2 separate regions of the Homo sapiens genome follow, and region 1 is linked to region 2. Evidence: fine-mapped expression QTL. A gene starts in region 2. The other region holds a variant in brackets. All regions are shown on one strand. Distances are between the middles of the regions. Region 1 overlaps CRYBG1 (crystallin beta-gamma domain containing 1). Region 2 holds the start of CRYBG1 (crystallin beta-gamma domain containing 1).

Region 1 (2,914 bases), 180 kb before region 2:
CTGAATTTAATTTAGCATGAAGCTTTCCTAATTATCCCTTTTCTGTCACATCACCCACAACTTGGAATTGTATGTATCTTTGTCCTGTTTTTCCACCAATGTTTAATTCTTCACTTTCCTCACTTGTTAAACCTACACTGCGCTGAAGCTTTGCGCACCCATCTGCAGCTCTGCAGGGCTGAGAATGCCTTAAAGACAAAGGACATAGTCTTACCTGCCTTTTTTTTTTTTTTTTTAATCTATAGCATCTAGCAAGTTATTCTTTCCATGATTTCTATTGAGCAATAGGTCCAATCTACTACAAATTTGTTTCTTAAAAGTCAGCTTTATTGCTTCAAAGTCACACCCTGTGAATTACCACGTCAAGCTGACAAAGAATCACCACAAGGACATTTGGATTTCATTTTTACCATTTTCAGAGGCCGCATGGATCCAATGTACGCTTCTTCTGTATCCCAGAAGGACAAGTCAGGGTATTCACCAGGTTCCAGGATGAAAGGAACACCCTGAAATCCAGGTTCTTCATAAATCAGCCACCTAAATAGCCACCATGGAAGGAAAGAAAGGGAGCCGACTCATCATTTGTTTCAGTTTTTCCTTCTGTCTGGTACCCAGGATGAGAGGAAAAGAACAGGAGAGGATACGGACCTACATAATGAATGGTTGGACTCAGGTGTTAGAATCACACTAGACTCAAGGAAAAATAAAGCCATTATATGCCCCTATTCTTGATCTTTTACTTTTCTCCTTGGCTGGCTTTGTCCCCTTATTTTAATTTGTATTATTAATTGCTCCAAAGTTCCATCTAATCATTTGTCATGGTGCCAAACATTAGTAACAGCTAACATCTCCCTAGAGCTTACAAGGAATGCCACTGAGAACTTCATCTAATCCTCACAACCATGCTATGAGGAAGAGAAGCTATTGTCCCCATTTTATAGATAAAGTTAAGTAAGTTGCCCAAGGCCACACAGCTATAAGTATGAAAGGCTGGAATGATTCAAGCCGATTCCAGAACCAGGTTCCTAATCAATTTTTTTTTTTTTTGACGGAGTCTTGTTCTGTCACCCAGGCTGGAGTACAGTGGCTTGCTCTCAGCTCACTGCAACCTCTGCCTCCTGGTTCAAGTGATTCTACTGCCTCAGCCTTCCAAGTAGCTGGGAGTACAGGCACACACCACCACATCCGACTAAGTTTTGCATTTTTTTTTTAGTAGAGGGGGTCTCACCATATTGGCCAGGCTGGTCTCAAACTCCTGGCCTCAGGTGATCCGCCCGCCTTGGCCTCCCAAAGGTGCTGGGATTACAGGTGTGAGCCACCATGCCCAGCCCTAATCATTTTTGTGATGGCAATTTTTCTCATTGCAGGAAGTGCATTGAACACAGTTTACTCTTTTCACAGTTACTCAGGATCATCACTGTGAGCATTATTTAATGCACAGTGGTGTCCTCAGGGGCTCTGAAGTTCTGTGGGGCTGCTTGTTCCCAGGCCACAAAGCTTTTTGAGTTCTTGGTTCTGATTGTTATGGCTTTTCAATACCACACCCTTCTATCAGCTTGTCAGCTGTCACTTCTGCTTCAGTTGGGGAAC[C/T]AGCAGCCCCACCCTCCTCTAATGTGCCAGAAATCAGGAAACCAGAAAACCATGCCTACTAGCCCTGTCTCTAAACTTTACAAGGTCTTCTTGTAAACATCTTCGTTCCTGGGAAGGGTTCTGAGAAGGTGAGGATGCTGAAGAAGTGACTTTTCTATAAGAGAGGGGTTAATGTACCTGCTTCATAAACAAACATAGACTTCTTAGTGATCACTTACACTCATCAATTCGGTTAGTTTTGCTAAAATGTTTTAGCCGTGGTACTCCACCATGTTGTGTTCCCCAGAACACCATGCCAAGAAGAGAGTGGCTGTAAATGAAATCTTTTACCAACAAAACGGGTCTGACCCCTCCCTCTTTGCTTTTTTCTTCTTCCCAATTTTGGCCCAAGGCACATTTTTGGCGGTGGTTTTTGTGAAGATTCCGCTGGATAAACTGGTAACTTCTCTAGACTCTCTAATTATACAGAGATTTACAACCAGGCTCCTACTGATGATTTGACAACACACACATGAAAGAATGTTGGGAGGCCAGGTGTGGGATATGGGTAGGAGGTCAGAACTACAGTGTTAGAAGTCAGGATGATGGTTCCTGGGGAAGAGGGCGTGAGGACGCATGAAAGAAACGGGTTTCTGCGATGCTGGGAATGTTCTTTTTCTTGATCTGAATGGTGACTGCGCTTGTGTATTCACTTTGTGAAAATTCACTCAGCTTATATATTTAGGGTTTATGTACCTTTTTGTACAAATGTTATGCTTCAAAAAAAGTTACCTTAAGGAAAAAAAGAGGCTTATCTTTTAAATACTACTGTAATGCTTCTAAACCACAAGAAAACAGACGCTAAGAATAGGGTACTTTACACTTCCTTATGTTTAAAGCATGACAGCCAAGGATACGTTACATGTATTTTGGAGCTCAAAGCTATCACAGGCACAGTACCCATGGATTTTGTTCTCTAACAAAATAATGGCAGTTCTGTAACACATTATGGTATTAGGCTAACCAAGCAGGTCCCAAGTCTGACTTCTTTACAAGTGAACAGGTTTAATTTTTCAAAAACTGAATGTACGGCTCACGAGCAAGCGATCTGAGATTTTGAAATGATTCTTACCGAAGTACCCTTTTCATTAAGTCTTTCCTTCTATAGCTTGAGTTCAGAGGGGATTTATTCATCTAATACTAAACATTTCACTTCTGTTGAAGCATGTGGTTTAGTTGCATAACATTCATGGAAGGAAAGTCATTCTGGGTAGAGGGGAATTTGTGAAAAAACCGAAAACATGAATGAATGCATTTGAAAAGACTGCTGTTCTGAAAGTTCTCC
Region 2 (2,914 bases):
CCTGGAACTCGCTGCTCCTCCCTGTTTCTGCCTAAGCCACTTCACCTATCCTCCTCCAGGAAGCCTCCCTGATCCCCTCCTGTGTGCTGGCATCTATCATTGCATTTTTTGGTATCCACAAGAGACTAACAATTCTTTGATGACACAATTATTCCTGTCTCTCATTGTTTTTTATATCGCAGTACATGGCACTTAGCTAAGGTACTCAATACAATAAGTGAATGAAAATAGATCGTAAAATTGACTTTTTTTACAAATAAAAGGAGAGGCCGGGCGCGGTGGCTCATGCCTGTAATCCCAGCACTTTGGGAGGCCGAGGCGGGCGGATCATGAGGTCAGGAGATCGAGACCATCCTGTCTAACACGGTGAAACCCCGTTTCTACTAAAAATACAAAAAATTAGCCGGGCGTGGTGGCGGGCGCCTGTGGTCCCAGCTACTCGGGGGCTGAGGCAGGAGAATGGCGTGAACCCGGGAGGTGGAGCTTGCAGTGAGCCGGGATTGGGCCAGTGCACTCCAGCCTGGGTGACAGAGCAAGACTCCGTCTCAGAAAAAAAAAAAAAAAAAGAAAGAAAGAAATAAAAGGAAAACCATGTCTAAAATGCAAATTTTGCACAATTTTATTCTGGCCCTCATAGGGTGTATTTTAAAAACACATTTGGAAGGATTTACTGGACATTGTCAATTGTCCATCACTATAAATATTTCACACCTCTGAGCCATGTAAATACGCTGTTACTTCAAATTGATTATTATTCAACGAATGCATAAACTCTGATGCTATAGTTGAATAATTATACATATAGAATAAAACCACTTCAAAACCATGATAAAAATCAAAAAGCACAATGGTAACTACAGTTTTGATAACTAGGTGCTCTCTAGCTCTGCCACTGGCTCCAATGGGGAGAAGCCATTTATCCTTTGGTCTCAGTTCCTCCACCCATGAAATGGGGGTAACCATTCCTGCCACTTCCTCCTCCCTTCGTATGTTGCGAGGAGAATGGGGGTATAACATCTGTAAGAGCACAGATCTTACAGATATTCACAATAAAGAGCTTTACAATAAAGACACTAGCTCAAAAGCAGTGCCTAACCCCAAAGCAGAGTTCCCGCCATCATTTAGGACGGTAACAACCCTCACTCCCCGCCGCTCTGGTTAGCAGGCTGATGCGGGAGGCTCCTGCATGAAAACTTTGCAGTCATACTAAAGGCCACATGCGTGGGCACAAGTTCCTCTCGCCGGTGCTTGGTCTGAACCAAAAGCCGCGAGGAACCTCGTCAACCCCAGCGGCTACGATCGCTCCCCTCCGGACCCGGGTACCCTCCTGCGGACTGAAACAGACCCCGGGGCTTTCCCCTCCTCCAAGTGGGGTCAGGAGTCCAAGGGCTAGCGCAGCAGGAGAAGGAGGAGGAGGAGGAGGTGGGACTGGAGGGCTCGGGCGAGGAGCTCACCTGGCCTCTCCGGCAGGCGCCGGGAGCGGGTGCGGAACGAACACCCCACAGTCAGGCGGCGCCGGCTGCTGCTTCTTTTTGGAGCGCCAGAGGTGGAAGGTGGTGTGCTTCTTAGGGGGCCTGCACGGGCTGGGCTCCCCGGGGTCGCCCTGGGCTGGCGGGGACAGCGGCATCGTCTTGTCCTCCTCCCGCTCCGACTGCCGGGACGCGGTCCTCTCTGCCGCCCGGGCCCTATGGAAGAACACACCTGAGCGCCAGCTCGCCCGCCTTTCTCAGCGCGCCGTGGGACCCCGCCCCCTCGTCGCGGATGCGGGGGGACGGCCGCGGGTTGCAGAACCAGCACCCAGCGCAGCGCGAGCAGCACTGCAGCCCGAGCTGTTGGGGCGGAGGCGGGGACCCAGCCGCGGAAGAGCGCCCCCGCGCGGCGCGGGCGGCAAGGGGCGCTAGCCCAGGTGAGGCGCTCGCGCCGGGAGCCCCAGGTGAGGCAGACACGCCCCGGCTCCCCACCCCGGGGGCGCGCGGCGGCCGTGGGACAGCGACACCTACTGGATGCTCTGGGCACCGCGACTCCCGACACTGCATCCCAGGCTCTAAGATGGGACCCAGAGCCGGGTCGGGCTTCCACAGCGCCTGGGGTGCAGCGGCCATTGTCGCCTGCGGAGTTGTTGGCCGCTCTTGGCCTGTGACAGGCTGGCAGGGTGAGTCGCTGCTTAGCCACGAGCCCCGCCTGGAGAAGGATGGGAGAGGCACATCCCGGGGCTGGGCCGCCCAGCAATTAGGACTCTTCCACTCTGATCTCTGGGTGGCTTGGGCAATGTCATGTGCTGGTGGCTTCTGTTCCTGTTCGTGAACACGGGTGGCAACTCCGCCAACTCGTCTCCTCTCTCAAGAGTCTGAATAATTAATTTGTACTCACATCTCATAAAACACAAAAGGATTAAAAAAATTAAAAACGCCAGAAGGGAATTAGGCATATTCCCCAATTCCCCAAGAGCTTAATAGATCCCTCGCAGTAAATTAAATGCCAGTCCCACAAGGTATTTACATCATCTGCATTACTGTTGATGACTTTCTTGTCTTAACTTCACAGTCGTGGCTAAATAGCAAAGGAAATTAATACTTAAGCAAAGTAAGTAAACGAACAATTATTTTGGGCATCATTAGAGCAAAGAAAGTGCAAGAACTAAGCACTACTTAAAAATTCAATGCAGTACAAGATCCTCTTTCACGGTAATGTCTTTATTTTCCTCTTTGAAAACACAACTCATTCATTCGTTTATTCACTCATTCAAGGAACATTCATTTTTATTTGTTTTTATTTACATTTTTATCAAGATGTAATTTATAGACAGTAAAATGCACAAATCATAAGGGTAAAACTCAAATTTTTACATATTTATGTGGTTGGGGTGTGAAAAGTTTTTTAATGGAGAGTTGACATTGTCCTAGAAAATTCTTCC

Evidence for each region. PIP is the estimated chance that this variant, and not a neighbour inherited with it, causes the effect.
Region 1: its variant is fine-mapped to the expression of CRYBG1 in whole blood (TOPMed, PIP 0.93).

The regions. Positions count from the first base shown.
Region 1 is chr6:106,537,026-106,539,939 of GRCh38, reverse strand. It overlaps CRYBG1 (crystallin beta-gamma domain containing 1), which reads right to left. Exons shown (of 22, transcript NM_001371242.2): 9 at 411-537. Among named protein-coding and RNA genes, the nearest start is that of RTN4IP1, 91 kb to the left of the region's middle. The variant C/T (reference allele first, on the strand shown) is at 1,591.
Region 2 is chr6:106,359,622-106,362,535 of GRCh38, reverse strand. CRYBG1 (crystallin beta-gamma domain containing 1) reads right to left here and starts at 1,819. Exons shown (of 22, transcript NM_001371242.2): 1 at 1,455-1,819. The coding sequence starts at 1,627. RefSeq lists silencers at 1,709-1,788, 1,809-2,018 and an enhancer at 947-1,813.